2 separate regions of the Homo sapiens genome follow, and region 2 is linked to region 1. Evidence: fine-mapped QTL for protein levels in blood plasma. A gene starts in region 1. The other region holds a variant in brackets. All regions are shown on one strand. Distances are between the middles of the regions.

Region 1 (16,532 bases):
TGTGCTGGAGATCCAGGAGCAGCAGGTTCTCCAGCTTGCTGAAGACACCAGGCGGGATTCTGGAGATGTGGTTCTGGCTCAGCCTCAGCTGCTCCAGGTTCCGGGGCAGGGCCGAGGGGACCTCTTCCAACTGGTTCTTCTCCATGTAGAGGAACACCAGGCCGGGCAGTTTCTCCAGCACCCTCTGGTCTATCTTGCGGATTCGGTTGTTGTCCAGGTTAATCCATCGCAGGCCTGTGGCATTCTGGAAGGACTCCACCGGGAGCTCAGTGATGAAGTTGTTCTGGAGATAGAGGTAATGGATGCGGGGCGGGATGACAGGGACCTTTCGCAGGTTGCGGCTATCACAGTAGAGGGCAGATGGGAAATCAGGGGGGCAGTAGCATTCGCGGGGACAGTCAGGGAAGATAGATGGAGGGCCTGGAGGGAGGGGAGGAGGCAGGTCTGTTGGCTCTGCTGGTTCATCAGGCTGAGGAAAGCTGGGTGTGGGCCTGGGCCTGGGCCTGGGTCTGCGCCCGGGCCCAGTCCCGGGTCTTGGTCGTCTTGTTGGCTGGCCTTGGGCCACTGAGGCCAAGATGAGAAGTGGGAGGAGCCAGCAGAGGGGTGACCTCATGATCCAGGTGATGCACCTGCAGGGAGAAGACACATAAGGTCATTATCCTTGGGCCCTCAGTAACTAGTTGTCATGTTTTTGAAGCCAGAGTTGGGCAGAACTAGAGCTCTAGGGAAGATGGGCAGAGCTCAGGGAGCTGTGGAAGCATCTCCTTGTTTGCCTGTACCCAGCAGGTAAGGGAATAACAAGGGCTTGAGGCTCTGGATTCCCTGGCCATTGGCTTAGCCACTCGATGTGTTGAGCCTGCTCTGAAGAGGGCGGGGGACATGCTGGTAGAAAGCACATTGGTGGCCAGGTGCGGTGGCTCACACCTGTAATCCAGCACTTTGGGAGGCCAAGGTGGGCAGATCATGAGGTCAGGAGATCGAGACCATCCTGGCTAACACGGTGAAACCCTGTCTCTACTAAAAATACAAAAAATTAGCCAGGCGTGGTGGCGGGTGCCTGTAATCCCAGCTACTTGGGAGGCTGAGGCAGGAGAATGGCGTGAACCCGGGAGGCGGAGTTTGCAGTGAGCCGAGATTGCACCACTGCACTCCAGCCTGGGTGACAGAGTGAGACTCCATCTCAAAAAAAAAAAAAAAAAAAAAAAAGGCACATTGGGGCTGGTGGGACAGTGGCATACAAGCCTGTAATCCCAGCACTTTGGGAGGCCAAGGCGGGTGGATCACTTCAGGTCAGGAGTTCGAGATCAGCCTGACCAACATGGAGAAACCCCATCTCTACTAAATACAAAAAATTAGCAGGGTGTGGTGTTGGACACCTGTAATCTCAGCTACTTGGGAGGCTGAGGCAGGAGAATCGCTTGAACCCAGGAGGAGGAGGTTGCAGTGAGCCGAGATTGCACCAATGCACTCCAGCCTGGGCAACAAGAGCAAAACTCTTTCTCAAAAAAAAAAAAAGAAAGAAAGAAAGCACACTGGACTCCGAGTCAGGAGTCCTGGGGCTTGTCAGAGAAGACCCTTAACCACTCTGGCCCTCAGTCCTCCCATTCACAGCATGAGAAAATCATCAGTGTCTTCATGAGAGGGATGTTAGGATGTATGAACCTTAGCGTCCTGGTTAAATCCAGAAAGGTCCTTAAAGATCCTATAACCTAGTGGTTTTCCAACTCTGCTTTCATTTCTGTGACATACCCCTGTGGGGAGGAGACTGAGGAGATGGCCCTGGGGTACCCTCAACCCATCCCTGTGCCAACCTCAGCAGCTCTCTTTAAAAAAACCTATTATATATATTGAGGTTTAGCCGAAGCATTCATTTGTTGAGGGGCAGGGGACACGTTTCTTTGCTAAAAATGGCTTGAAATCCACCAATCAACTCCAGACCCCACCATTTGCAAAAACTGAGGACTGGAAGGAAGAAGTGGCTCGCCAAGGCCAAGATGCTGTTTAACAGCAGATCCAGTCTGCACACTCACACACACACCTCTTCAGGTCCCATGCACATAAGCAAACTCACTCACTTATCCTCTGTGTGCGTATATGAGCCCATACGCAGTACACTGAGTATTGGAAGGAAAGAAGGAAGGCGGAAGGGAAGGAAGGCAGAGACTGTCTTTCTCCACCTCCCTCTAAGGTGGTCTCTTCCAAGGCAGGCCTCTCCAAGGAGGTCTGGAAGGCCATTTTCCCTGGCCTCCTATCACAAAGGACCTTGCAGTTAGGTTTTTGGCTTGATCTCCCGTTAAGGATATAACATTGTCAGAGATACATTGCAAGGGTTAAAAAGAGAAGGCATTAATTGCAAAACTTTAAGCTTGAGTCTTGTTGGCTGAACCCCACTTCACTTGTAATTGGTGAACTATGAATTAACATTGTGTAAGTTCTGTAATTTTCTGGAAAACAGAACAGTCATCTTGCATATAAATTAAGGGGGTAGTTAAAGCATTGGTATTCTAAAACAAACATTTCTAAAAGCCTCAATTTTTGTGACCCTGATTTAAAAAAAAAAATTTATTTTCTAATCACCCAGAAGCCTAGAAATGATCTAGAAATCTTTCATACTGTGAGAAGCCCTGTCCCAAGGAGGCTCCCAGCACTGGCGGGAGTTTTTCTATATCCCTTCATTGCCTTTGTCACCGAAAGCATATGCCAGGGACTGGGCACCAATTTGCCCAGGGCTTCCAGCAAAAGCAGTGAGGCACTGTGGCTGTGACCTGTGCTGGGCGGGGCGGGGTTTCCTTGGCTCAGTGCCAGGGCAGCCCTGGTCTTCATTGTCAGGGGTGAGAGGAACAGGCAGGTTACTCACAGCTCCACCCAGCAGGCTGGCTGTGCGCGCCTTCTCATCCACAGTAAACACAGGCCTTCCTCATCCCCATGTGCAGCACCAGACCCTTTGGGAACTTATCTTTTCACTAGTCCTCTGACCCGTTTACATTCCAAACCTCTGGGCCTAGCCAAGCTGCTCCCAGAGCCAACAGGAGGTTCCCCAGGAAATGCTCCCAGGAGCAAGTTATGTGGGGAAGCTGAGCCTGCTCTCCTCCCCTTCCCTCAGCCCCAGGGCTGAATCAGAACCATTCCAAGTGCAGGGATGCTTCTCTCTTAAGGAAATAGCATTCATTTCTAAGGCTTTTCTCATGGGGTGATGCCCCTTCCTGCCGGAGCTTTGCCATGAGGCAGGATGAAAAGTTCTGACAGCTGACAGCACAGCCATTCTCTCTGGCAGTGCTCCGTGATGTCCTAGGTCTCTGAAACCAGAATCTGTGTGACAGACTGAGGGTACCTGGACTCCATGGGTAGTCATAGTCCCTCCTACAAAGCCTCAGACCCACACTCTATGCTCCTGCCTTCTAGAAACTTCTGTCCAATCATAAGATTCCTTAGGATGGGTCCATGTGTGTGTTTTTAAATTTTTCTTATGCTTTCACAAGTGCACTTCTCCACCCACAGCTTTCTACTGGGCTCTGCTCATTGCTCAATCAGTGAAGGTTTGTTGACCACCTACAACAGCCAACTGCATGCAGTTCTGCTCTCCACCATCAGTTCTGGAAAAGCTGCTGCTTCACGGAAGAGAAAGGCAATTGCTTTGCCCAACCCAACATTCACTCTCCACATTAAAGAACGTTTCCTAAGAGAATCTTAATTTTTTTTTCTTTTTTCACTTTAAACAAAAATGAGATGGGGGTCTCACTGTATTGCTCAGGCTGGTCTTGAACTCCTAAGCTCAAGCAATCCTCCCACCTCGGCCTTTCAAATTGCTGAGATTACAGGTGTGAGCCACTGCACCCAGCCTCTAAGAGAGTTTTAAATTCTAATTTCAATTCCAACTATTGTGGATCTGGGCTTGACTCCTGGCTCTGACTCTCCAACCCGGGCTCCTCATCTGTGTGAGGATCAAATGAGATCATGCATTTGAAGGCATGTTATAAAGTGCAAAATCTCTGCAAGTGGCAGAGGCTTACTTACTCATTTATTTGTTTATAAACAGCAGATTCTCTAGAGAGACTCCTTGATTTTTTTTTTTTTTTTTTTTTTTTTTTTTTGGTGATACAGGGTCTCCCTTTGTTGACCAGGCTAGAGTGCAGTAGTGCAATCACAGCTCACTGCAGCCTTAACCTCCCTGGGCTCAGGTGATCCTTCCATCTCAGCGTCCTGAGCAGCTAGTACTATAGGCATGTGCTACCACAGCTGGCTAATTTTTGTCTTTTTTGTAGAGATGGGGTTTTACCATGTTGCCCAGGCTGGTCTCCAACCCCTGAGCTCAAGTGATCTGTCCTCCTCAGTCTCCCAAAGTGCTGGGATTACAGGCATGAGCCACAGCGCCCCAAGGACTCCTTGATTTTTAAAGTGAGATAGCCCCCTTCCCTATCTCTCTCATTAATTTAATGTTAAAACCCAGGAGTGGTGGAATGTTTCTGCTCAGGGCAGGGTTGGGTGGAAGTCCTGATGGGTTGGTCAAGTCATTAGGAGCAGCTATTTAAGGCTAATTGGCTTTGTATGGAGAGGTTGAGGTTGGGCTGGGAATGAGGTTGGGTTTGTCTCCCAGGGCTAGGCAGGGCTAGCAGCAGGGTTACGCCGCACTCTGAACTGGCATTCTTCTTACTTGTCAGATCTCCTGTCTAATTGGTCACCCCTAAGCCTCCATGCCTTGACCCAGAGCTACCCTGCAGTGGAGAATGGGGCTGCTTCTGACCTAGCGCTGTGCCGGTGAATGTCGGAACACCCCTCTCTCTTTTTTCCCTTCTTTCTGTTCTCAACCTAGGTGTCTGAAAGCCATCCTGCTCTCTGTATCTCTTCCTGTAGTCCAGAAGGGTGTTGGAAGCAGGGAGAATCAAGCAGTCTTTGCCAATTTATGAGCAGAGTTAGTAGAGGAGTGAGCCTGAGGCCCTTTCAAGGCCCCCATTAGGGCTGATGTGGTCCTGAGATAACAAAGGAGCCTTATGGGGGCATGATGACTTCAAGATGCCCCTTTCTAGGAAGGTGAAACGATACAAGGATGAGCTTGCCTGGGGCAGTGGGAGGAGAGCCTGTGGTGCATACTAGTTAGGAGAGAAGATTCTCACCCCTCCACCACTACCTAGTGATGCGAACCCTGTTCTGGGCCTCAGTTTTCTTATCTGTAAAATGGGAATAAAAAAATCTTCCCTATACCTATATTCCTTACCCAATTGTCAGAAGCAAGTGCAGTTAGCAGCTTTAAAATGCACTACAGATCAAAAAGTGCTAAAAATAAAAATAACACTATTATGGAGAGACCATCTGTCTCCCCAGTGTCTACCACAAGGCAAAGTGTAAACAGAATGAAGATTTTCTGGCCTCAGGCCACTAGTTTAGAAGAGAAAGTTTTCCATTCTGAGCGGTGGGGAAGAAACCAGGGTGAGACGACTCTTCTCTGACAGCCCGCCACCTACCATATCCTCTGCCCCATTCCCCCAGCATCTCCAAGCCTTGAAGAAAGCCTAGAAGAGTGTGTCTGATGCCTTGAGTGATTATAGATCTGAGACCCAATCCTGCAGTTCTTCATTCAGATGCTTAGCTAGGTAGGCTTAGGCAAAGCAATTGCTTTTCTGCTCTATAAAATGGGGATACTAACACCTTCTTTTCTGTTTTGAGGGTTAAATGAGTTAATACATGCAAAGTGAGTGTTTTCTGAATGTTAAGGTCTTGTTGATATTATTTCAAAGTAATGGGGTCTCCTTCCCTCCAGCCTGGCTAGAGGGCAGCCCCCATGCACTGCTCGAAGGCAGGGATCCTTGTGAGTGGGGTACCAGCTCTTCCACACAGAGCAACTTCCTCCCCTTTGTGGCTTGTGAGATCACACTTGGGTCTCAGAAACAACTAACTGAGGAGACTCTGGAAGTCCCCAGCCACCTAGGGAAAGCTTGTTCTGTCTTTCTAATTCACCAACTTCTCACCGATGCTTTCTGCAACAGGTGAGGGGACACTGGCCACAGAAGGTGCAAGTCTGCCTTCCTCAGTGGGCCATGGAGTTCCACTGCGATTCTTGACTTCTCCCAGCTTTTTGCCCCTTCCAGCCTTGAAATGCTTCACTCACATGCCCAATAAATGGGATTGCCCACTAGGGAGGTGGAGGGGGCATGAAGAAAGTGTTCAGCTCACCCTCTGTGAGAGCCCAGACAGGTGGCTGCTGGGAAGGAGGAGCAGGGACCTATAAGGGTCAGGGGAAGGGCCCAGCACATGCTCCTGGGGTCCTGGGGCAGGCAGATTAACAGGTGAGGGGAAACAGAAGCTCTGTGGAGCCATCTTGGGGGAACTTTCTTACTGGAATGTTCCTCTGTGGTATATATGGCTGCTTGTGCTTGCAAGGAGGAGAGAGGGAGACAGCTCTTCCCTGTTTACTCCCACTCCCCAAAAAAGAGGTGGCCTATTTGGGACACTCTGGTGCTCCTTTTCCAGGACACAGTCCTTCTGCCCAGCTAACACTGCCGGAGTCTTGGGCTTAAAAATTACAGCAAAGCTCTCTCTCAGGCCCCTGATTCTCGAGCCCTGGTGGACCATCAGAATCTCCTGAAGTATTAAAACAAGATTCCTGGGTCTCGATTCAGTAGATCTGCAGTGAGAGCCGACATCTGTATTTTTAGTAAGCCCTCCACACTCCTCCCTCTCCAGCCCTTAGGTGACTGTGAAGATCAGCTGTGTGTGGGACCCCTGATCTCCCTACACCCCGCCTGCCTTGGGACAGACCCTCTCTATTAATAGAGAGGAATGAGCAGGGGAGCAGGAGAGGGGCCGCCCTTCAGTTTTCCCCTCCCCAACTGCTTAAGGAACTGCTGCCTTTTTTTTTTTTTCTCCTCTGCCACAGGACCTTTTGCCAACCTAAATGGTTGGAATAATTTCAGAACGGCTTTAAAGAAAAATATTTTTCTGGCTGCCTGCAGGAAAAAAAAATAAAAAAATGAACTGTCCCCAGAGCTGGGAATTAGGACCTTCAAGGATTGGGAACTGGGTCGCTTTCTTCTTTCTTTCCAAAAGCCAAGTGGTTTGGACCAGTGAGACAGAAATTGAAAGCTGCTGAGAAGACACTGTGCAGGTTGGAAAAAGCCGTTTTTCTCTCCCTCCTACCCAGTGAAGCCCTAAATAATGAAGAAACCCTTCCAGCTCCCGCTCTTGCTTATCTCCTCCCTATTCGGCCTGGACTTGGGATGCAAGATTTTCTTCTGGCTCTGCCATCTCAGTGGGAAAACGTACTTTATCTTTGCTCTTACAGCTAGGGAGGTGTGTGTGAGAGGGCGAGAGACAAGATGCAGGGAACATGTGTGCATGCATGTGTGTGTGTGTCTGCTGGTGTCTGGTGATGATGTGGTCTAGCTCTGCATGTCAGATGCAGAGGGCAGAGGTGAATGGACAGGATGTCTTCATTTTGTATGGTCGTGTGGGGTGATGGTAGTGAACGTGCAGCCTCCGTGTGATGTGTGTGACTTCCACAATGTGTGACAATACACAAAAGGTGCAAAGAAATGGGTTCTGGAGTCCAGTTTCTATGGAAACACCTGATCTGTAGAAACACTTTGTGCAGCGTGGCTCTCTGTGCTACAACAAACATCTGCAGCAGGAAAGCTTAACTTTTGCAGTAAGCAAATATAGGGGTACAGAGTGATGAAAAGAAAAGGAAGAGGCTATAGGAAAGAAGTTAGGAAGACTAAATTTGAACTCATTTGAGAGGAGAAAGAGGTGGGAGGAAGGAAGGAGTGAGAGGATAGAGACTAGATCAATAAATGGACAGAGCTGGAGGAAACTTACTGGATGAAAGATTCTTCCCAGTCTCCTGCCCATCTCCCAACTGGGCTTACCTGCACACACCTGCCTCTCCTCTCAGCTCTGAGTTTAGTCCTCCTCTTCCACCCCCTCCCTTCGGCGGAGCTGTGGCAGCAGAGAGCCAGCTAGAAGATCTGATCTCCCAGTGGTGTGTGCGTGCTTGTGTTTGCCTGACTTTTCTTCCACCAGATCCTATTGGGGTGGGGAGGTTAGCTTGGGGGGAGGGAGGGGCAGATCATAGGGAGGGAGGGGAGGAGAGGAGGGAGGAGGGAGGGAGGGGAGGGGAGGAGAGAGGGAGGGAGCTTGGGAAAGGAGGAATGACAATAAAGTCTTTATTTGGCAGCCAAAACTCCCAAAGACTTCATCCACACACCATTCCCACTAACAGACTCATTTTTAATAACATTTCCTTCTGCTGCTGCCGCTTCTGGAGAGGGGTTGTTTGACCCATGTTTGGAAAACAAGCCAAATTAACAGAGTGAAAAGGCATGAAAAGCAACCTCTGTGTAAGCCAGGACTGGATGGCTGGGTCCAGCACTAGCCTGTTTAATTCCTCCTAACAATCGCCTTGCCTTCTGGGGCCGTTGCTCGGTAGTGTTAAATTCCTAAACCAGTGAGGGGTTTGGGATGCTTCCTCTGAGCAGTGACAGTCTTTCCCTAAGTTATCTTCTCCAGGAGGTTGCAAAGGGAGTGGAGTCTCAGGCTGGCATAGGAGATAACTTCGGTTTGGCTGCCAGGGCTGTTCTGAGAACCAGAGAGGGAGAAGTCTGGCCTGAGTTGCACAGCAAAGTTAAGGCAGAATTAAGATTTAATGTAAGACCTAAAGTCACTGTTCCTAGCTCATGTGGACAATGTAGTGGCTTCTTTCAGCTTCTCCATATCACACTTAGGTGAGATTTAGGGGCTGTGTGGTCATCACACAAAGTGATGGGAAATCCAAATTTCCCCTGTGCACATCAACACCCCAGAAGACCCAGTCAAGTAACACCACTACCTCTAACAATCCTCTAACAATGCCCCTCAATTAAGAAAGCACAACACACTTGCAGGTAAGTAGATGCCCATCAAAATTTCCTGCCATGGCCAGGCACAGTGGCTCACGCCTGTAATCCCAGTACTGTGGGAGGCAGAGGCAGGCGGATCACCTGAGGTCAGGAGTTTGAGGCCAACCTGGCCAACATGGTGAAACCCTGTCTGTACTAAAAATACAAAAAAATTAGCTGGGTGTGGTGGCGGGCATCTGTAGTCCCAGCTACTAGGGAGGCTGAGGCAGGAGAATTGCTTGAACCTGGGAGGCAAAGCTTGCAGTGAGCCAAGATCGTGCCACTGCACTCCAGCCTGGGCAACAAGAGCGTGACTCTGTCTCAAAAAATAAATAAGTAAATAAAATAAATAAATTCCTGCCATCCCAGCTGACTACTTAGAAAATGCAACGCAATTTTCTTCTCCATTATTGGTTCCATGGAGAGCTGCAGAGCCCCATGACAGGGGACTGCCTGCCTGCCCTCCGCAATATGGGGTAGAGGAGAGAACATTAAAATTAGGGTCTGCAGCCCTGGGCTCAGCCACCCACAAGCTATGGTCTTAGGTGAATCACTTGATCATGAGGACCTTCAGTTTCCTCATTTACAAAATATGGATAATATTGACCTCACAGGGTTGGGAAGATTAAATATTGTAAATGTGAGAGCACTTTATAAACTGGGAAGATATTAGGGTTTAGGAAAGGGATTGCGATGAATGGTAATTAGCCTAAGAAAAGGAGAAGGAAAAATAAAACCCAGACCTTTCTCCAACCCCCTTCCACCCCAGATCTCATGGCTTCACGCCCTGCTGGTGAGGTCTTGCTGGAAGACAGCACGGTTCCTCTCCAGGTTCACATTAACTGTGGCTCTGCCAGGCTGCTCATGTGCTTCATTTCTCATCCAGATGGGATATGGCGTCTTCTGCAGGCCGGGAACATCAGACGCCAGATTTGCTTGTTTCCCTTGGTATGGTGGGTGGTAGATGATAGAGGGCAAAAAAGACTGGCTGGGCACGGAGACTCATGTCTGTAATCCCAGCACTATGGGAGACGAAGGCAGAAGATTAATGGAGCCCAGGAGTTCGAGACCAGCCTGGGCCATATGGGGGGACCCTGTTTGTACAAATAATTTAAAAATTAGCTGGGTGTGGTGGTGTGTACCTGAAGTCCCAGCTACTTAGGAGACTGAGGTGAGAGGATTATTTGAGGCCAGGAGACCAAGGCTGTAATGAGCTATGATTACGCCAGTGCCCTCCAGCCTGGGTCACAGAGCAAGACCCTGTCTCAAAAAATAATAAGGTGAGCAAAGTACAGTGAGGTACAGGGATGATGGGTAGAGTGTCTGTGGGGATAGACAGACTGGAAGGAGTGTGGAGTATGGGCAGGGGCAGGGGTGTCACCTGTATCCATTTGTATGACAGCCATCCAAATCCCAAGAGTCTATGCTCTCGGGAATGGATGGCCAACTTCCAAGCCCTGCCTAAGCCAGTTATCTCCCTTCCTCCCTCTCCTATCTCCCGCATCCCACGCTATGCAGAGAGAATTGGAAAGAAGTATAGACATGGCCAGCAGGATATTCAGGAGTGTCCAGAATAGAGTTTGCTAATCAGTGGCTTGTGGACCTAATATGGCTTGAGTACCTAATTTTTTTTGACAGCACGTTAATTTTTTAAAAGTTTTGTGGAAATTTTAAAACGTATACATATTTACACAGTATAGTATTAATATCCCCATTATCTAATACCTAGCTTCAACAATTACCGACTCATGGCCAATCTTGTTTCTTCTGTGTTCCCCACTCCCACAAACCCTACTGGTATATTTTGAAGCATTGGTTAAAAAAAAAAAAAAGGATTTGAACACCTTTAGTCAGGACAAGCACTTCCCAGTTCAACACAGTCGCCATCCTGGTAGACAGGGGTCCAGGTTCTTGGGACCTGGCTTTGCCCCATTGCATGCTGTGTGACCTTGAAGATGTCTCTCTCCCTCTCTGACCTCAGTTTGCCATTTATAAAACACGAGGTTGTACCAAATGACCTCTCAGTGCTCTTCCAACAATACTGTGAAGAGAGAGTATAAGGTTTGGGGTTAGGAAACCTGGATTAAGATGTCAACTCTGCTGTTCTCTAGCTACCTGGTGAGTAGGTCTCAGCACACGAGCCTTGGTTTTCTCATCTGCCCCATCTCCCTCCCAGGGTATACCCAAGATAACACAAGGATCATTGGCAGCAATGGCAGGGGAGTATTTTGTGATTCACTGGCTTCATGCACCCTGGGACTATGTGGATCCTCCAGGAAGAGCCTCCTCTACTCTCCTAGAGTCTCAGGGACACCAGTGGTGTGTCTTCAACCCAGGGGAGGTATTTATCTCTTGCTGGTGTAGCCAGAGAACAGTCACAGGCACATGATGTGAATGCTGGGGCATATGGTGAGAAGTCCAGATATGCACATTGTTGCTGCTACTGCTGCCTGGTCCTAGGAGAGGGCTAGGGGCAGCATGGTTAGGAGACAGAATGCAGGGAGGGCCAGGCAGCAGAGGGAGGGGGCTCTCCAAGTTGGTGGGTTTCAGCTGCATTTGCAGAGTTGGGACCTGCCCACACTTCCCATCCAGACCGAAATCCATCTGGGGGGCTTACCATTTCTTTGACCCTCACAGTAATTGCTGCCTTGGTTACAAGCAGTGAGTGCTTAAAGCAAGAGAAGAAAGGACACAATTGTGTAATACTCTTTCCATAGAAGTACAGGAGGGAGGTACTCAAGCTTCCCACCTCCCCCGTGGTGGTCCTGAGACTTTGCCGGGAAGGAGCAGTGTGGGCCCGAAGAGTTTGGCTCAAACTGCTCAGTGGTCATCAGGACCCACAGAGGCTGGCCCTGGACGGACCCTCACCCTGTACTAGTTGAGGCTCCCAGTCCAGGGTGGGTGGGGTCTGGGCAAATGCATAACGGGGGAGAAGCTGTGTGAGTCCTGTGGCAGCCTGTCCCACCCTCCAGCCTGGGGGGCCTGGGTTGCCTGGGGTGAGTGGGCCCCTGCTGGGCAGAGACAGCATCCTGTTCATCATGGTATAACCCACAGCACCCACCAACGGCTTGGCACACCCTGGGTGCTCAGTAGGGGTCTGTTTCATTGAATTTAAGAGGGTTGAACAAGGAGATTCTCTGTCACCCTCTTTTTTTAAAAAAAGGTTATTATTTTTTGAATAGGTAATACATTCTCTTGATTGAAAATCTAAGAGGTATAAGAGCTTGCATAGGGAAAAAGTCTTTTCCCTTGCCTATCCCCTCATCACTCACTTTCCCCCAGAGGACCGTGCGCCAGTTTCTTGTGTCCTCACAGATTTATTTAAGGTACACACTAGTAACAAATAAGCAGCTATGCACTTTTATTTTCACTTAGTGGTACAGGTATCTTTTGAAGATGATCATATTGGTCCTTTTGGTGATTCTTTCTCTGCCCCCACCCCCCAATATTTATTTAGTTGACAGTCTCTCTTGGTGAACATTTGGGCTCCTCTTTTTTTTTTTTTTTTTTTTTTTTGTGACAGAGTCTCCCTCTTGTCGCCAGGCTGGTGTGCAATGGTGCAATCTCGGCTCACTGCAATCTCTGTCTCCAGGGTTCAAGTGATTCTCCTGTCTCAGCCTCCCGAGTAGCTGGGATTACAGGTGCCCGCCACCAAACCCGGCTAATTTTTGTATTTTTAGTAGAGAAGGGGCTTCACCATGTTGACCAGGCTGGTCTTGGCCTCGAACTCCTGACCTCAGGTAATCTTCCTCCCTTGGCCTCCCAAAGTGCTGGGATTACAGGAGTGAGCCACCTCACCGGCCTGGGCTCCTCATTTTTTTTTTTTTTTTTTTTTTTTTGAGATGGAGTCTCACTCTGTCGCCCAGGCTAGAGTGCAGTGGCACAATCTTGGCTCACTTCGAGCTCCGCCTCCTGGATTCACGCCATTCTCCGGCTTAGCCTCCCAAGTAGCTGGGACTACAGGCGCCCGCCACCACGCCTGGCTAATTTTTTGTATTTTTTAGTAGAGACGGGGTTTCACCATGTTAGCCAGGATGGAGACCTCCTCATTTTTAAGGTAGGCAGTGCTGGAGTTGGAGTCTCACAAACTTGGTTGCAGGCCTGGCTCTGCCTCCTCTCCATGCTAACGGGGCGGCCTTGGGCTACGCAGCCCTTCCTGAGCCTCAGTTTTCTCCTTTTATGTCTCAGGTATTCAAGGCAGTCCATCAGCTCAGTAGTGACAGAAACACAACTTTATCCTATCATTTCACTTCTCTAATTTCTGGATCCAAGTGCTCATTTCACCAGGATCGTGAAATACTCCATCTCAGTCCTTGGTACCCGTGGGGGGCCACCCAGCAGCTTGAGGCAGGTTTATGCAGTGGCAGCTCCAACGGGGATGGAGGGTGTCTGTGGGGAGGGGACGTACATGGCTCCTGGCTGATGCTGCTGTGGGGCACACCCTCCATCCCACCAGGCCCCTTCTGGCCGAGCAGCCCTCTGACATTTCCTAGGCTACATGTAGGGGACAAGAACTTTCTGCAGGAACTTTCCTCTCTGGAAACATGCTGGCTGCCTGGCACTCTGCCAGGGGCAGGCTCCCCGATTCCCTCTCTCAGGGCTCTCATTCTCCTCCAGCTCAACTCCTTTTACATGCACATTAAAGCCAGGGGCCCTTTTATTTTCTGGGGAAAGAAGTTTCCATGTTCCCCTTTCTTCTGGCCAAGACACTGTGTCTATGCCCAGAAGCCCCCAAGAACCTAGGCTTATGGAAAATGAAGCCAAAGGCACATGCGGGCGGCTTCTGCTTCCTGCCTCCCCACAGATCTGATCTGCTTGTTTCGATGAGAGGAAGGGACAGGGCAAAGGCAGCGGAGGAAGAAATAAAACTTATCTGTCGACCACACAGTGAGCACAGCCGGACTGGAGAACCCCTAAATCCCTCTGTGCAAATTGTCCGTGATCCTGTTGAGGGGTTGTCAGCTTGTGGACCATCTGAGCAGTCCTACAGAGAGTCCTACAGAGAGAGGGCTGTTGACACCTGGTGGGAAAGAGGGTGCTGATACACGAATGCTATAGACATGGCTTTTAGGCCTAAGTGCAAAGGCTACACCGTCAGCTGGTGTTAGCAGACAGCACTAGCCTGGGGCTGCTCAGTAAGCACTGCTCTGGGCTTCCCTAGGTCTCCCAGAAGCCAGGCTCGAGTGAGTGGTGATGGCATTTTGCCTTCCAAGGTGAGGTCCTCCTAGGTTCTGGGATCTCCCAATCACATCATCCTGAAACCCAGCCTAATTTAATTTTATGTTGTAAAAGTCACAAGTCACAGCAAGTCACAAGCACCTGGATCGAATATCCAGGTTCCAGGTATCATCCTGAGCAAGCTTCCAAATGCCATCCTGCTCCACGTAATAGACTATTGGGTAATGACACTGCCTCATACAGGCACAGTCCCACTGCATCCTGCGACGATGGCCAGTCTGTGGACATGTGTGGTCAGTTATGCCACATATTACAAGGTCTAGGAGGGCAGGAGCAAGGCAGCCCTGCCAGGGACCCCCACACATGACCTTGGGGGTCCCCACATCCATTTGTGCACCAAGCAACGTCTCTAAATTGAATAACAGTAACAATAATAAAGCCTCTTGAGAATTATTATAGGCAAAGCACCCTTCTTAGCCCACCCTTCTTAGCTCAATGAGGCAGGGACTTCTATAATACTCATTTAACAGGTGAGAGACTGAGGCACAGACAGTTTACATTCCAAAGGTCACAAATCTAGTAATGGCAGAGATAAGATTTGAACCCAGGTCGTCTTCCTATGATGTTCTTGTTTGTGTGTATGTATACTGTTGTGATGAATAAAATGCAGATTATTTAAAATCATCTTTAAATTCATGTAGCTTTGTGTCATTATGTATTCATACAAGTCCAACTATCATCACATACTTCTTTTTTAAGTTGAAAAGAAATCTTTGCACTTAAAACTGTTAAGAACCACTGATCTAGGTTTCAGTTACTCCTTCTTAAAAGACAGAGTTGCTTTCAACTGTTCCCTTCACCCTGCTCCCCACGCCCTGGACTCTCCAAGTCCAGTCAGTTCTATTTCCTCGATGGCCTGACAGCTGGCCCCCTCTCTCCTGTCATGGCACTGTTTTCTTCTAGACCCTGGCCCACTGCTACGGTGTCCTGATGGGTCTCCCTGCCCTCCACCCTCCACCTGACTCTTCCTCAGGTCACCTTGCATGGTTCCCTGTCCCCATGACCATTGTTCTTGGCCCACAGCACATGTTAGATTCACCTAAGTGTTCCTGAAAGTGCCTGAGGCCCCAGCCCTAGAGATGCTGGTTCAAATACATGTGCGTTTTCCAGGCTGTCATCAAGAATGATTCTGATCTGTGCCCTTTGCTGATAATTAGACCTGTAGAATGCAGTCCAAGCTCCATGGTCTGTCTCCTGCTTACCTTTCCAGCCCTGTTTCTCAAAGTCTAGACTCCAAGCATGTGACTGTCTCACAGCAGCCAGAGTACTCCAAGAGATTTCACCTCTGCATGCCTTTGCCCACTGCTCCTTCCATGTAGAAAGCCCTTCTTCACTTATACCTGTAATCCCAGCACTTTGGGAGGCCGAGGCGGGTGGATCACGAGGTCAGGAGTTTGAGACCAGCGTGATCAACATAGTGAAACCCTGTCTCTACTAAAAATACAAAAATTAGCAGGGTGTGGTGGCATGTGCCTGTAGTCCCAGCTATTCGGGAGGCTGAGACGGGAGAATGGCTTGAACCCGGGAGGTGGAGGTTGCAGTGAGCTGAGACCACACCATTGCACTCCAGCCTGGGTGACACAGTAAGACTCCATCTCAAAAAAAAAAAAAAAAAAGAAAGAAAGAAATAAAGAAAAAAGAAAAAAAGAAAGCCCTTCACCCCCCCAGGTGTTACATCTTCTAGGATGCTCTCCCGACAGCACTCTCCTCTTTGACCCCTGGTCTCTCCGTTTGCTGCAGCAGTCCCCCAGTGGATGGCCCTCCCAGGAACCGTGCCACTTCCTCGCCCTTCTCTGCTCTCCTGTCTGCCTTATCCACAAGCTCCCATGGGCCTGTGCCAAACCGGATTCCTACTTGGAGTCCCAAGACCTACATGGTTCTAACACAGAGTAGGCGCTCAGGATCCTGCACTCTGGCCCCAGCAGGAATCGGGCAGTGAGCCGAGAAGCGCTAGAACACTTTCTCCTCTTAGCGTGTTTGTCTGAATAATTGCAAAATCCTCCTGTTTTTATTTTTTTCCTGAAGGCTTCTCATCTTCTAATCTGTTTTCCATGACCGAACAAGTGTGTTATTTCCTCAAACACAAACCTGATCATGTAATTCCCTTGCTTAAAATTTTGCAATGTCTCTCAGGTATTTATAGAATAAAATTCAAATGCCTTGGCATGACATTTGAGACCCTGCAGCCTGACCTGACTTTCTTGCCATTCTCATTTCCTTTCATAGTTCCTGTGGAACCAGAGAACCAGACTCATGGGATCCTGGTTCCCTGCGTTTTTTGTTTTGTTTTGTTTGTGAGACAGAGTCTCGTTCTGTCGCCAAGGCTGGATTGCAATGGCATGATCTTGGCTCACTGCAACCTCCACCTCCCAGGTTCAAGCGATTCTCGTGCCTCAACCTCCCAAGTAGCTGGGATTATAGGTGCGC
Region 2 (16,532 bases), 73 kb after region 1:
CTGCTCTAGGAGCTTAATCAGCAAGTCACCAGGGCTATTTTCAGAGCTTCCAGTGAGTTTTTGGCTATGCTAAGGGAGTTCACGAGCCACGTTTGGCAGCAGAGATTGGAGAAAGTTGTTCCACGTAAGAAATGAGAGGAATTCGGATTTTGCCCCTAAGAAGAAGACAACAATGAAGAGGGGGAAGGGGATTAGCTGAATAACATGCAAAGAGTCTGCACCCTGAGTTATGAAAATGATCAATGGATTTTTAAAAAGTCATACCAGAAATGTCTGTTGTTTAGTATTATTTAGTGTTTAGTGTTATTGCTATGATGTAAAGCTCTTCATTTCTTCAAAGCTTCCTAAGTTTTCCACATCACAGAAGCCTTGCAAGTATTTCTGCCATGTTCTCCACCTGGATGGTGGTGGTGTGGAACAGGGACAGTCACCAGGAATGGCCAGAGGACCCTGGATCGAACAATTCATCAGAAGCAGGAGCACCCTCCAGAAGTTTGTGGAAAACTTGAGATGGACATTAGACTTTGCAAACTCCAAAGGGTGATGCTGGTTCAAGGCACATTTGCCCTGACCTGAAGGGTCAATGTGACCACTTCTAGTCTTTATGAGCAGGGCTGTGTGTGTTTCAGTGGCAGTGTGTCTCTAAGAAGTGTGGGCTTTCATTGTCTGTATAATTAAACCCTGTGCTTGCAATTATCCTTGAAGGTATATGTGTTTATGTGCTGCTTTTGGAATGATATATTGATATGACTGCATGTTGAGTCCCTGTGGGAGAGGCTGCTAAATGGTCATGTGACCATACTTTTCTTCCTCACCTAGGAACACCAAGCCCCTTCGCACTCCATGAGAAGTAGAGGCCTTCCCGGGATCAAAACAGCACTCCCTCTCTGAGCCTCCCCAAGTAACATACACTACCTGCCCCATTTTCTCCTTCTCCTGCCCCTGCCTGTTTCCTTGTCTTCTTCCTCCAGCCCCAAGAATAGCTGAGGCTCTTAACTAAGAACAAGAAAACAAAAAATCGGGTCACCAGATGTGCTTCATTCCACCTCTCCCTCTCTAGCTATCCTCCCCACAAGCCAACGCATTCTGAGCATATATACAGCAAGCACCTGGCATCCCCCCAAACCCAGCTGTGCCTCTGCCTGGCAACAGACCCAACTCAGGTGGAAATTTGGGGTACCCCACAAGCATACCATATGGTTCATCCTGTCTCTAGCACTATGGTGCAGCTCTTTTGTTCTGCCTAGACAGCCTAAGCAGACCCCAGAATGATTTTTCCCATCCTGAATGAAAGGTGATATGTTGATGTCATCTGTACTGCCGGTCGCCTTCTCCCTGTGTAGACACTGCCTGTCTCAGTGTAGGAGGACAATGAGGTCTCCAGGAACAAGGTCCCCGTCCAGAGGCAGGAAGACAGAGAGACCAGCAGTCCTGCCTCAGCTCATGGGCAGGGTTCACTTGAGCTGGTCCCCACCTGGAGCCCAAAATGAGTGTCTTGTGCTTTGGAGTGAACAGACATCTGGGATTCTCATTGGGGACTGTTTACTGGTTGATTTGCATGGCACATTAACAGCCCACAGCAGCCCACTTTCTGCCAGGGACTTTCAGGAACCATTTCTCCAAGCCAGCGTGGCCCTGCGCGGGCATGAGCCCTCCCCATCCCTTCTTCCCTCCCCACATCAGCCACGTGGATGTGACTCACACAGGCTCTCTGAGCCCCTGCCAGCAGCAGCCAGAGGACTGCCTGGATAAAGTTGGGATGGGCTACTTCAGGAGCAGGGAACAGTCCAGAGTCCCTGTTAGAATTCCGTGGGCCTCCGTGCCCTCCTCCTACTACTACTCCCAGTGTCGCCTGCAGCCCAAACCTCATGCAGCAGCGTCTCCCTGATGCTTGGGCGAAAGTTCATCCTTTCCTATCTGCTTCTCTCCTTTCTCCCGTAGCACATACCACAATCAGGGACAACTATGTGAGTTCTCTTGGTTTTTCCCTGTGATATTATATAAATAACCCACACTTAAAGCAGAATATTCATATATATTATTTTGTTTTATCCTCATGATCACTCTATGAGATAATTGTTATATTTCCCATTTCAAAGAAGAAGAAATTGAAGATTGAAAGATTAAGTGAGGCAAAGCATAGAGGATGTTTAGGTAGTTAAACTACTCCGCATGATCCTATAAAGGTGGATACAATTCATTATACATTTGTCCAAACTCATAGAATGTACAACACCAAGAGTGAACCTTAATGTGAACTCTGGACTTTGGGTGATAATGATGTTAAAATGTAGGTTCATCGGGTTTAGCAAATGACTGTTCCTGTGGGGGATGTTGATAGTTGGGGAGGCTGTGTGTGTGAGGGGCAGGGGATACATGGGGAACTCTGTACTTTCTACTCAATTTTGATGTAAACATAAAACTGCTCTAAAAAAAAAAAAGTCTATTTAAAAAATGCCACTCTAGGCAATACAGAGAGACCCTGTCTCTTAAAAAAAAAAAAAAAAAAAATTAGCCGGGCATGGTCATGCACTTCCATGGTCCCAGCTACTTGGGAGGCTGAGGTGGGAGGATTGCTTGAGCCCAGGAGGTTGAGGCTGCAGTGAACTATGATCACACCACTGCACTCCAGCCTGAGCAACAGAGTGAGACCCTGTCTCAAAAAATAATAATAGTAATAATAAGAAATACATAAATAAATACTTATTTTTAAAAATTTTAAGTTTTAAGTTTTTTAAAAAGTTTTCCTTGATTCCCAGAGTTTCCCTTGTTCTAAATGTACTGCATGAGCTTCTGAATGTACTTGGAGATTTACCAGTACCTCTCCTTGCCAGTTGTAGCTCCTCACCCCAGCCTGTCATCTGTCTGCCCCACCCTCCTCAACCTCTGGACTATAAGAACTCTGAGCCTTGACTTAGTTGTCTCTGTATTCTTAGCTTGCGGCAGTGTCTGACACATAGTAGATGCTGAATAAATGTCTGCTGGGAGAATGCATGAATGAATGAATGCATGGAGGAAGAGGAAGGAGAGGAAGAGAGAGAAGAAGATAGTGGGAAGGAAGAGAGGAAGAGGAAATAAAAAACAGGAAAAGGAGATGGAAGAAGAAGGAGAGTGCAGTATAGGGTCGGAAAGAAAAAAGGCATCCCTTGATTTGATCTTATCCCCTTTGTCTTCCTGGGGACTGGAAGGCCCTTCTCAGTTCCTTTCTTTTCCCTCTCCTCCCAACAGGATAAGGACTTTGGCCACAGCCCTGCCTATCCCCCAGGTATCCCCATAAAGTCTTTAACCCTTAGATATAGAACTGCTCTGTCCCTTTTCTACAAAACAAATGTGTTATTTGGGCAGAAGAGGAAAGGAGAAAATTTGAAGTGGAAAAATCTTTGGTTTGGAAATTCAGCTGACTGCCCTCATTTGGAATAAAATGTCCTTCAGTCCCTGGCTGTGTGGCAGGCAGGCCCGGCCAACAGCAACACCGGATGCCGGGAGACTGGGAGGAGGCCTGGGGATTTTCAGAGGAGCCGCCAGAGTGGTATGAACTTGGAATCCAGGAAGAGAGTGATGGGGCTCATCTCCAAGGGCTGAATCCCTATCCTCTTCCTCATCTCTGTCCAGACAGTGGTCAGTTGTCCCGATGTGTCAGGCAGAGTGCTGTCCTGGGGGCACAGACAGGACCAGGAGAAGCAAGTCCTGAGGGAGAACAGGGGCTGGGTCTGTCTCATGTCCTGAGCACCAACCTCAGCATCTGACACATGGAAGGTACCCAAGAAACATCAGCTGGGAAAAAAAAAGTAACCCTTGTCCCGAGGGGTTGACAGGAGACCCAGACTTTGCACTCAGGTTGGTCCCAGCCTAATAGTGGAGACAGAACAGATATAAAGAATGCAGCTCAAAATCGGAATACCAAGTACAAATACAAATAATATAAACCAAGGGCTGACCTATCAGAGTAGCACAGCAGACTGGCTTGGGGCCAGTGAGGTGAATTGAGAGAACCTCCCCAAACAGACCATCCTAAGTGGGCCTCTGAAGGAGCAGATGGGAATTATTTGGCTGAAGCCAGTAGGATGAGTATCAAAGTGGGGAGTTCAGACAACATAAGAACAAGAAGAGCAGGAGGCTGAGCGGGGATGGGGCAGGTCTCCAGGGCTGGAGCAAAGCACAGCTGACCCACCCTGACTGGTGTCTGCAGATGTTGTAGAAGCAGCGCTTAAGTTTACACTGGCTTGCTGGTAACCTGGGTAGCCGGGGGGAAATATCACAGTATAGTTCACAGGTTGTGTCATAATCTCCCAGATTCATCATTTTCAGCCTTGGTTGTGCTTATGGGGCTAAGGGGTGGAGGCCTAGATTTGTAACAACCCAGAGACCAAACCCATTTCCACAAGAAAGTGCACAGAGAAGACAAAGGGAAAAACGTGGTAACAGGGAAGATGTCAGAGAGATGGGAGGCTGTGCAGAGAGGGCAGCACAGGCTGCCAGTTGGCCTCTCTTGTTTTGTTTTGTTTTGCTTTGCAGGAGAGAGGGAGGTTGGAAGCGCCACTGAGAGGAGTCAGAGGAAAGTGTAAGGAGACTTGTAAAAAAAGGTATGCAGGGTGCTGTGTGCTGCCTGATCCACTGTATGTGAGTTCTGGGTTTCAGCAAAGGCCATACAGACATTAAGGCTTCTGGAGCTGGGCTAATGCTTCCTTGGACTGTGATCCCGCTGAAATCAACTTTGGAGGAAAGGAAATGAAAAGGCTCCAATTTGTATCTTCCTGGGAGTAAATGTTTCTTATCCAATATCAATTCTCTCCTTCCTTACTTAATAAAACCACAATTTGTTACCCAGACAAAAGATGACCTTTCCTTTGCTCCCTTGCAGCTAGGAGTAGCTTCCAGTAGCAGGAGCCCCTGGAAGGTTTAGGGGAAAGTCTGGATTTCCTGATATGTACCCAACCCTTGCTTTTTGTCATTTTCTTTTGTCTCCGTCCTGCCTGGAACATGTGATCAGGAGGTGGTCATGAGGATGAAAGTCATATGTGAAGGATGATGGAACAGAGGGACTAAAGGAGCCTGCCCTGGACACCCTGATTTCCTGCTATGGGGAGTGAAAAAGAAGCCATAGTCCCATGGATTCTGTTACCAGCCACTGAGTGCAATCCTACCTGATCCCATGGTCCTCACCAAGGCTGTGTCTGCTTAGGAAATGGAGAATGGTCCCCAAACCACAGCAGCAAAAATGAGTGGAAGGGTTGAGCATTATTTCCAGCCTTGGTTGCTCTGGTGATTGGTGCCTGGGAGGGGCAGGACCTCCATCCAACAGACTGTACCAGCAGAGTCGTAAGAGGTAGGACTTTGGAGATTCAGCCGTATGTTCTATGGGTGGACTGAAGGCTGAAGGAGGAAGAGGTAGAAGTGCATTGCTACCGACCTACTCCATCCCACGTGCAGACTCCCTCGACCCCCAACCCCAGGCTGTCACCTGCTCCTATATTCATTTTCTCTGAGGTTGGAGGAAAGAGAAAGGAGACAGCAATGGCCAGACTTCCCTGGGGTTCCCAAACTGGTTAGTGTGCTCTGCTCAAGTGCTGGCTCCCCGCCCCTCTCTATGCACACACTCAGCCCATGTTCACTGATTCCCATCCTACCCTCCAGTCATTTGCCTAACTGACTTTTTTTTTTCCAGGAAACCTCAGAGATGCATTGGACTTGGTCAGCAGACTTGAGTTCTATGCCCATGCCAGTCACTGACTGGCCATGACCTGAGTTGGACAAATCATGCCCACTCTAGACTTAAGTTGTTCCTTATATGGAAAAGGAAAGGAGTGCTTTGTCAGTGGTTCCCAGATACCAATTTATAAAGATTTCACTAGTCTGTGGCAAAATAATATAACAATGGCTATGAATTACTGGGTATTTCCTTTGTGTGAAGTGGTTTTCATATATTAACTCATTTAATCTCATAACCACCTGGAAAAGTATGTATTCTTATTAACACCTTCACATGATAGATGATAAAACCAAGGCTCAGAGAGGTTAAGTAACTTACCTGAAGGTCTTCATATGGTAAGTGGTAGAGCCTGGATTTGAACTCAGGTATCCTGGTCCCAGAGTCCACGTACTAAATCACTACATTACAGCTACCCATGTGATAAGGAAAAAGTAAGGAGGAGGATGATGATGTGCATGCATATTGATACACACAGACATATAATACAGTATATTTGTGTACTGTTAGTGTAAGTTTAATACTGACTTTCTGGGGAAGGACAGGGATATATATCCTTTATGTTAAGAGTGAGAGAATAAGTCTTCCATATTTTTTACATTAAAAGGTACTTTTCTGAAATGATGACAGAAGGTGAGTATTTTATTTGCTCAACTGGCAAAATAAAACTTATCGACAACCAGTTACTTTTTACAGTATTTTACTTCCAACTTGTAATAGACCATGAAATTAAGTCTGGGAGCCCTGAGGCTACAGGGTCTTCGAAGTCCTTTCTGGCTTAAATAATGTAAGGCCTTCAACCTCCAGGTGAGGTGACTTAAGTCACACATTCTTGGAGACGTCCTCCCAGATATCAGGCACACCATCTGGGCCCCCTGGTCAGCCTAGCAGACGAAGAGCCATCACCCTGAGGGAACCTGTTTTGGTAACATGCCTGTTTAACACTGCAAGTATTTTGACCCATAAAGAAACTTTCCTGTCCCGCCATGGCCCCAGCTTTAGCTACACCCCGTCTGTACTTGTCTACCTCTTGGGATAAGTACCATATAGAGAGAGAATCTTAAATTACTCATTAGTTGGTAGAGATATTTTACTTGAAAGCAGATCCCAAACATAACCTCCTCCTGCCCAATCCTAAATCTCAGGCACCAAAGAAGACCAAGCTCTATCCTGAGTGCTACAAATGAGAAAACCAAAGGCAAAATTATGAACTATCTTGAGGATGTCTGTTCAAAGCAATTGTCCTCTACCTTATATGGATTCTGTCGGATCCTGGAGCAGATTAGAAACAGAACAGGTAGCACTGGGGGCAGTCCATTAGTGCTCTCTTTAAAACCAAGGTGGCAAACTCTTGTTTTGAAACTAACATAGAACAAGCAATTTGAGAGAAGGGAAATTGGTGTAGCCCAATGTTGTTATTTTTTTCTTATTAACAGTCTCAAAGTCCCTAGTGAAGGAGGGGAACATCCAAACAGTTAGCAGCCAGGGACATTCTTAGGAAGGACAGCGGAAGCCACAGCACTGCTTCTGCTGTGGGGTCTACATGCCTAAAACTGAGCAAAGAATTCGACTTGGTGGGCTGGACTCTGCCTCAAAAGTGAATGAAAACAAAACAAGACTTCAAGTTAGCATTTGTGGAAAGGGGAAAAAAACCATTGTCTGCCTTTCTGTCTCACGAACACAGAAACAAAACACTAATGAAGGCTCCCAATCTGGCAGAAATCTAAGGAATTAGAGGAAAAGGAACAAAAATAAACAAAAGGACACCAGACTTCAAGTTTCTCAAGCCAGATGTGACC[C/T]TGGAAACTGGTGTGATGAGGAAGAAAAACAGCTGTTGACTCAGTCATGTGATGATTCAATGATACAATTATTTCATCATCAAAAGAGGCTTTGATAACTTCGCCATTAGCAGTAAGAGTAAAAATAGAAAAAGAGGAAGGAGGAGCTCGATTTCAGCACTAATCTGATTCATTCGCTTTAAAAGACCTAGGCTTGAGGCCTGAACTGGTTATGGAATCTAGCTATTAAAAATGGTTCTATCTGGTGACAGAATTTTAAGAAATGCTGAAGTTGGCAAAGTGGATTGCTCTATTTAGCAAAATATTTTCAGCTATGGTGGTCCATTAAAACACCAAGAAAAAGAACAAAAGAACAAAAGAAACAAAAATCTACTGGATAGAGTTTGTATGAAATCCACAATCCTGCAGTTTGCAGGAGCGGGAATACACTTGCAAATCAATGTTGGAAATTTGCATTTTTCTGAGCTTTTAGTGGAATGGAGTGTTGGGGAGGGACTTTCTGCTTTTTATGGGTGGATCCAGTGAAATGATTGCTGGTCCTGATTAGAGGCCCATGGTTTCAATAATCTAGCATTCTCCCAACTGTGTCTTTAGCCTCTCCTTCTTTCTCTTCGGCCTACAAACAGGCTACAGAAAGTGCTGCCTGGGCTACACGCTTAGATGATCCCATCCTAAATACAACTTTCCATTGACTGGGGTCCCTTTCTAGCTATGGCTCTAGCAATCAGCTCTTCTTCCCAGACAAGTTGTTTGGGAGAGAAGTCCACACGCTAACCTGTTAGAACCGCCACATAAAATACATGATGCCCACTTGAACTTTAATTTCAGATAAATGACAAATAATTATTTCAGTTTATGTATGTCCCATGCAATATTTGGGACATACTTATTATACTAAAAATTTATTCATTGTTTATCTGAAATTCAAATGTCAGATAAATTGAAATTTAAGTGAACATCCTGTATTTTTATTTGCTAAATCTGACAATCTGACTCCTAGTATCCCTTCTTCACTTTCTATTTGTTGCTCAGCCCATGGAAACCTGGTTTTTGCCTCCACCTTTCATTGATACTGCTCTCCCCAGGCTCCCCAAGGACCTCTTACTGATCAAATTCACGAGGCACGTTTCCACCCTCCATGGCAGGGGCCTCTCTGGAGGACTCTGCAGGCACCGCTGGCGTCTCCGCTGTCCTGGTGAAGCTGTCTTCCCTTTTGGCTTCCATGATGCATTACACTGCTTGTTTTCTCCACCTTTCTCTGACTGCTCCTTCCCTGTTTCCTTCACGAGCTGCGCTTGTTAAGTCACCTCTTACATGTTCAATGCTACCCAGGGCACTGCCCTTTGGCCTTCCGCACTCTCTATACACAGAGCTGGATTTGCTGCTATATTTATCTCCCCACTCAGCCCCACTGGCCTCAGCTGCCCTGAGCAGCTCTGGCCTCCTCATCCATCATGCTGGGCACCAGAGGATGTCTTGCAGAGAAACCTTTCTGCCCTGGGCCTCCAAGGAGGGCTCAGCTATCAGAGAAGAGGGTCATTTTTAAAAGGGTCAGAGCACAGGACCCTCCAAGATTGATGGGCTATGAATTATGGATGTCGCAACTGTCAGTCCCAGTGCTCCAGAGCCAGAGAGGGTGTCCCTGCCTTCCGTCCCTGAGTTGGCCTCTTCTCTCCAGCATCCCCGTAGCATGTGCTCACTAAATGTGTTCCTGTATTGCTTTTTTACGTTTGTTGTCTTTTTGATGATCTTTATTTCTATGCACACACATACACGCTCAAGCACATCCCATCTGGCTGGGAGCTCTCTGAACCCTCCTCCATCACACTGTGCCCTGCTAGAGGGCAAGGACTGAAATGCCCCAGGGGAAGTGTTTGATACACAGGTGTGACTATAACAAAACAAAACACAACAAACACACACACACAACGATTTTTACCCTTTTTTTTTTTTTGAGACCAAGTCTTGCTCTCTCACCCAGGCTGGAGTGCAGTGGTGTGATCTCAGCTCACCGCAACCTCTGCCTCCCAGGTTCAAGTGATTCTCCTGCCTCAGCCTCCTGAGTAGCTGGGACTACAGGTGTGCGCCACCTCGCCCAGCTAACTTTTGTATTTTAGTAGAGATGGGGTTTCACCATGTTTCCCAGGCTGGTCTCAAACTTCTGACCTCAAGTGATCACCCACCTCGGCCTCCCAAAGTGCTGGGATTACAGGTGTGAGCCACCATGCCTGGTTGATTTTTACCCATTTTTAAAGTTGTAAGTGCTTTTGTATGCAATACTTTGGAGCAATCTCAGGAGTTGTTTATGTTGATTTGCTAGAAAGAGATACAGAATGCCAGGCTAGATTCAAAACTCCTGAGGATCTCAAGCAATAATAAGTGCACTTACAGAAATTAAAAAGAAATACCGCTGGAAACTCAAGGGCTTTTCTGGTGATCACAAAGATACTGGCAGATTTTTGTTGATAGGTAGGCCAAACTTAATCAGCTAGGGAAAAGAAAGAGGTACTAAAAGTTAATCACCAAAGCCAAAAAGATTAAACTTGTAAAGACTCAACAAGCAAGTAAACACATTAAATTTTCTGAATATGACTGAAAACAAATTATAGTTAACCTCTTAATACTTCACTGGGTATTTGAGCTGTTCTTAGGGATCCACTTTTATTTTGGTAGTACTGTATAATAAATGTTTCCCTAAAACCTACAGTTAATTTAAAAAATATCTTTGTTCCTCAACTTGTAATGACATAAGTACGTTGCATACCACAATTTTTCATTGAACATTTTATTTGTTGAAATTATCTTATATAAGTCAACTTCAGGTGATTTAGAAAATAAATGTGTTTCGAACATTTTTTAAAAATCAATAGCTTTTTTGTTTGTTTGTTTGTTTTTTGAGACAGAGTCTTACTCTGTCGTCCAGGCTGGAGTGCAGTGGTGCAATCTCAGCTCACTGGAACCTCCGCTTCTCGGGTTCATGCAATTCTCTTGTCTCAGCCTCCCAAATAGCTGAGATTACAGGCATGCACCACCACGCCTGGCTAATTTTTGTATTTTTTGGTAGAGATGGTGTTTCAGCATGTTGGCCAGGCCGGTCTTGAACTCCTGACCTCAGGTGATCCACCCACCTCGGCATCCCAAAGTGCTGGGATTACAGGCATGAGCCACCACGCCTGGCCCCAATTAGTAGCATTTTTATACACAAATAATGACCTAGCTGAAAAAGAAATAACAAACACAATCTTATTTGTGATATCATCAAAAATAAAATAAAATAAAATAAAATAAAATAAAATACTTGGGAGAAATAATCAAGGAGATGAAAGATCTGTACATTGAAAAGTATAAAGCATCAATAAAAAAACTAAAAAAGATATAAACAAATGGAAAGATATTCTGTGCTCATGGATCAGAAGAATTAATATTGTTAAAATGTCCCTATTATCCAAAGCAATATACAGACTTGACACAATTCTTATCAAAATCCCAATGACATTCTTCATGGAAATAGAAAAAAAAAATTCCTACAATTCATACAGAACCACAAAAGACCCCAAATAGCCAAAACAATTCTAAGAAAGAAATACAAATAGAAATCTTCCATTTATTATTCAGGGCTGGATTTGTATCTGGTCCTATAGGCACATTTAGGAAAAGAAACTTCTTCCGGTAACTCCTTAATGTGTGCTTCCAAACTACTTTTTGTGTTAAATTCTTACAGTTTCTGAAAGAAAACTGTTAATGATTAGCCATCCTGAAGGCATTCTGAAGCGTTACATTTCTTGATTTAACAATTACTTTAAAATATAGTAAAAGTTAAAAATTTAAAAATATAGTGAAAAATTACTATATATTTCAAAACCATAGTAAACAAAACAGTATGGTACTGACAGAAAAAAAGACATATAGGCCAACGGAACAGAAGAGACAGCCTAGAAATAATTTCAAACATATATGGTCAACTCATTTTTGTCAAGGGCTCCAAGAGGACAAAATGGGGCAAGGATGGTCTTCTCAATAAATGATGCCAGGAAAACTGGATTTCCACATGCAAAAGAATGACACTAGACCCTTATCTGACACCATACACAAAAATCAACTCAAAATAGATTTTTTTAAAAAAACCTAAATGCAAGATCTGAAACTATAAAACTCCTAGAAGAAAACATGGAGGAAAAGTTCCTGGACAGTTGCCTTGGCAATGATTTTTTTCATTTTCTTTTTCCTTTTTGGTAGAGACAGCATCTCCTTATGTTGCCCAGGCTGGTCTCGAACCTCTGGACTCAAGTGATCCTCCCACCTCACATCCCAAAGTGCTGGGATTATAAGTGTGAGCCACCACATCCAACTGGCAATGATTTTTTGGAGATCGCAGCAAAAGCTCAGGCTACAAAAGCAAAAATAAATAAATGGGGCTACATCAAATTAAAAAGATTCTGCACAACAAAGGAAACAATCAACAAAACAAAATAGCAACTTATGGACTGGGAAAAAATTTTTGCAAACCATATATCCGATAAGGGGTTAATATCCAACATTTATAAAGTACACATACAAATCAATTATAGAAAAACAAATAAACTAATTTTAAAATGGGCAAAGGACCTGAATAGACATTTCTCCGAAGAAGACATAAAAATGGCCAACAGATATATGAAAAGGTCCTTGACATCATTAATCATCAGGAAAATGTGAATCAAAACCACTATGAGATATTATTTTAGACCCTATAGGATGGCTATTATCAAAAAGTCATAGGGGTGTGGGGAAAAGGGAACACTTGTACACTGTTGGTGGGAATGTAGATTTGGTGCAGCCATCATGGAAAACAGTATGGAGGTTTCTAAAGAAATTAAAAACAGAACTACCAGAAGACCCAGCAATCTCTGTTCTGTGACTATATCCCCCCAAAATGAAATAACCACCTTTTTAAAATACCTGCACTTCTATTTTCACGCAGCATTCTTCACAATAGTCAAGATATGGAACCACCCAAGTGTCGATGGAGGAATGGATTTAAAAAACTGTGGCATCTGTATACAATGGAATATTATTCAGCCTTTAAAAAGAAGGTCCTGTCGTTTGGCACAACATGGATTAACCTGGAAGACACTATGCTGAGTGAAATGCGTCAGACAGGAAAAAAAAATAGTGCATGATGTCACTTACATGTGGAATCTAAAAACAAAATCAAATGTGCAGACGCAGATAATAAAACAGCAGTTACTGGGGTGGAAGCAGGCTGGGGAGGAATGGGAGGAAGAAATGGGAAGACGTAGGTCAGAGGATACAATGTAACAGGTGTGTGGAGAGATCTAATGTACACCATGATGGTTGTAGGTCATAAAATCGCACTGTACTTGGGATTCCTACTAAATGACTAGATTGTAGCTGCTCTTGCCACAAAAGCAACAAAAATGGGTAACTGTGCGGAGACGACAGAGATGTTCATTTGCTTTGCTATAGTAAATATTTTACTAACTATGTGTATCCTATAACAGCATGTTGTATACCTTAAATATACACAATAAATTTTAAAATAAATAAATAGGATTGAGCTGGGAAGGAGGAGAAGTTTTTCTGAGAGAAGAACCAGGAGGCTGTAAGGGAGAAGATGTCCTCAACCCAACCCACGGCGCTCTGATGCCCTTTATCCAGCAAACTGCAGGAACTTACTCTTGAGGAGGTTAGTCCTCCTAATTGTCCGATTCAATAGATATTTTTCAGTGCTTACCAGTTTGGACCCCTCTGATGCATTGGACCCTGTTGGTCCCTCTTCTCTGCTGCTGTTGTTGTTGCTTAAAAATAGTTTCATTATATAGCTGATGGCAGTAGTTCTCGGTGATGCTGTCATGGTACATTTTAGCAGAGGTGGGCGGTGAGGTAAAAATAGACAATCAGTAAGTAACATGGCTGGCAAGTGGTTATAAATGTTTAAAGGCAAATAAAGCAAGGAAAGGTGATAGAATGTTTTTGGTAATGTGACATTTGAACACAGACCCAAATGAAGTTAGGGAGAAACCCATGGGGACCGCCTAGGGAAGAGTGCCCCAGAGAAAGGGGACAGCATGTGCAAATGAACGAGGAAGTGTGCAAGAAGTTCAGGGTGGCAAAATCAGAGACCTGGGAGGGGTGGAGATTAGAAGATGAAGTCAGAGAATTAGTAGAAGTAACTAATCATGAGTGACCTTTCCAGCCACATCTGGCATCCAATCAAACCTTAACAGGCATACAAAGAGGCAGGAAAATACGACCCAGGGCCGGGCACAGTGGCTTACACCTGTAGTCCCAACACTTTGAGGGGCCAAAGCGGGCGAACTGCTTGAGCTCAGGAATTCGAGACAAGCCTGGGCAACATGGCAAAACCCCGTCTCTACAAAAAAATACAAAAATTAGCCGGGCGTGGCGGTGCGCACCTGTAGTCCCAGCTACTCGGAACGCTGAGGTAGGAGAATCGCTTGAACCCGGGAGACGGAGGTTTCAGTGAGCCGAGATCGTGCCACTGCACTCCAACCTGGGCGACAGAGCGAGACTCTTTCTGAAAACAAAACAAAACAAAACAAAAAGAAAATATGACCCAGAATAAGAAGAAAAATAAATTGACTGAAACAGAAATGATACAGATGCTAGAATTATGCGGAGCAGAATATTAAAAAGTGATAATATACTCCATGTGTTCACAAAGGTAGAAGAATGTATGAGCATGTTAAGGAGAGATATGGAGAACATAAAAAAAGACTGAATTAAATTCTACAGATGAAAAAATACTGGCCGAGATGAACAGCATCTTAGACACTCCAGAAGAAAAGCTTAGTAAACTTCAAGATACACTAGTAGAAACAATTCAAAATGCAGCGCCGAGAAGAAGTCTGGAAAAAAGAAACCAACAAAGCGTCAGTAAGCTGAGGAACAACATCAGATTGCCTAATATACGTGCCATCAGAGTCCAGAAGAGGGAGCAGAAAAAATATTTAAAGAAAGAATGATTAAAACTTTTCTGAATGTGACAAAACGATAAACCTGCAGATCTAAGAAGCTCAATGAACCCCCAAGCAGGAAAAAAAAACATGAAGAAAACTATATCAAGACACATCATAATTGAATTTTAAGAACTAGTGTTAAAGAGAATGTCCAAAAGCAATGAGAGAAAATCAACAGCAGAATTTTAAGAAGCGTTAAAGGAAGGTTTTTTTGCACAAAAGGAAAATGATGCCAAATGGACATTTGGATTTATACCAAAAAATAAAAGAAATTTCTGGAAATGGTAAATATGTAGATAAATATAAAAAAAGTTAAATTGAAATATCTAAAAGGGATAATTTATTGTTTAAAGCAAAAATAATAGTAATACATTGTGAGGTTTACAACATATATAGAAACAAAATGTAGGGCAACAATAGCATAAAATCTGGGAGAGCAGAAATAGAAATATACTGTTGTAAGGGGCTTATATTTTACACGAAGTGGTAAAATATTACTTGAAAGTAGACTATATAAATTAAAGGTGTGTAGTATAAACTCTAAAGCAACAAATGAAAAAAATGAAACAAGGAGGTATTGCTAATATGCTAATAAAGAAGATAAAGTAGAATCATAGAAATGATTAACCAATAAGAAGACACAAAAAAGGAAAAAGGGAATTAAGAAAAGATGGAACAAACAGGAAACAATTAACAGGATAATAGATTTAAGCCCAACTGTATTAATAATCACATAAAATGTAGTTAGTATTAACACTCTAATCAAAAGGCACAGATTGTCAGATTGGACTTTTTTTTTTTTGAGATGGAGTCTCCCTCTGTCTCCCAGGCTGGAGTGCAGTGGTGAGAGCTCAGCCCACTGCAACCTCCGCCTCCCAGGTTCCAGTGATCCTCCTGTCTCAGCCTCCCGAGTAGCTGGGATTACAGGTGTGTGCCACCATATCCGGCTAATTTTTTGTATTTTTAGTAGAGATGGGGTTTCACCATGTTTGTCAGGCTGGTCTTCAACTCCTGACCTCAAGTGATCTGCCCGCCCTGGACTCCCAAAGTGTTAGGATTACAGGCATGAGCCACCACACCTGGCCGACAGGACTTTTTTTTAAAAAAGCAAGACCCAATTATTTTCTGTCTCTAAGATACCCAAGTTACATATAAAGGCAAAGACAAAACTAGGTACAGTGGCTCGAGCCTGCAGTCTCTGCTACTCAGGAGGCTGAGGCAGGAGGATCCCTTAAGCCCAGGAGTTCAAGGCCAGTCTGAGCAACATAGTGAGATCTTCAACTCCTAAATAAATAAAATAAAAGCAAAGGCAGATTAAAAATAAAAGGATAGAAATGATATACCATGCTAATACTAATCAAAGGAAAGTTGTAATGACTATGCTAATATCAGACAAAGTAGATTTCAGAACAAGAGATATCACTAGGAATAATTAGCATCATTTCATGACGATAAAGGTGTCAATTCTTCAACATAATGTAATAATCCAAAAATATTTATGCACCTAATACCATAGCTTCAAAATACATGAAGGAAAATCTGATAGAAATATAAGAAAAAATAGACAAATCCACAGTTACCGTTGGAGATTTCATCATTTCTATTTCAATAATTGATAAAACTAATAGACAGAAAATAGCAAGGATATTGTACACTTGAGGAACCCTACTAACCTATTGGACCTGACTGACATTTTGAGAACACTCTTCCATATAGCAACAGGATGCATATTTTTTTCTAGTGCTCATGGAACATTTACCAAGATAGACCATCTGGGCCATAAAGTGAGTCACCATAAATTTTAAATGATTCAAATTACACAAAATATATTCTCTGGTCACAAGAGAATTTAATTAGATAATCATAGAAAGATACCTGAAAACTTCCCAAGTATTTGGAAACTAAGCAACACACTTTTTTTTTTAAATTATATTTTAAGTTTTAGGGTACATGTGCACAATGTGCAGGTTAGTTACATATGTATACATGTGACATGCTGGTGCGCTGCACCCACTAACTCATCATCTAGCATTAGGTATATCTCCC

Direction of the effects. Positions count from the first base shown, and alleles are read on the strand shown. Strength reflects both the effect of a copy and how common the allele is.
For the plasma level of the protein whose gene starts at base 7,992 in region 1, allele T in region 2 goes with a higher level than allele C (moderate association).

The links. PIP is the posterior inclusion probability: the model's chance that the variant is causal. Protein levels are from antibody-based Olink assays in UK Biobank. Linkage for the fine-mapping came from a reference panel and not from the study's own genotypes, which makes the PIPs less certain.
Region 2: its variant is fine-mapped to the plasma level of the PRELP protein (UK Biobank, PIP above 0.99).

Annotation. Positions count from the first base shown.
Region 1 is chr1:203,467,266-203,483,797 of GRCh38, reverse strand. It overlaps PRELP (proline and arginine rich end leucine rich repeat protein), which reads right to left and starts at 7,992. Exons shown (of 3, transcript NM_002725.4): 1 at 7,860-7,992; 2 at 1-629. The coding sequence starts at 613.
Region 2 is chr1:203,393,836-203,410,367 of GRCh38, reverse strand. BMNCR (bone marrow associated non-coding RNA) reads left to right here and starts at 2,743. Exons shown (of 3, transcript XR_001738390.3): 1 at 2,743-3,837; 2 at 4,516-4,583; 3 at 4,991-5,635. LOC102723529 (a long non-coding RNA gene) reads right to left here. Exons shown (of 7, transcript XR_922438.3): 6 at 12,445-14,375; 7 at 10,276-11,893. It also overlaps the pseudogene LARP7P1. RefSeq lists a silencer at 1-201. The variant C/T (reference allele first, on the strand shown) is at 7,507.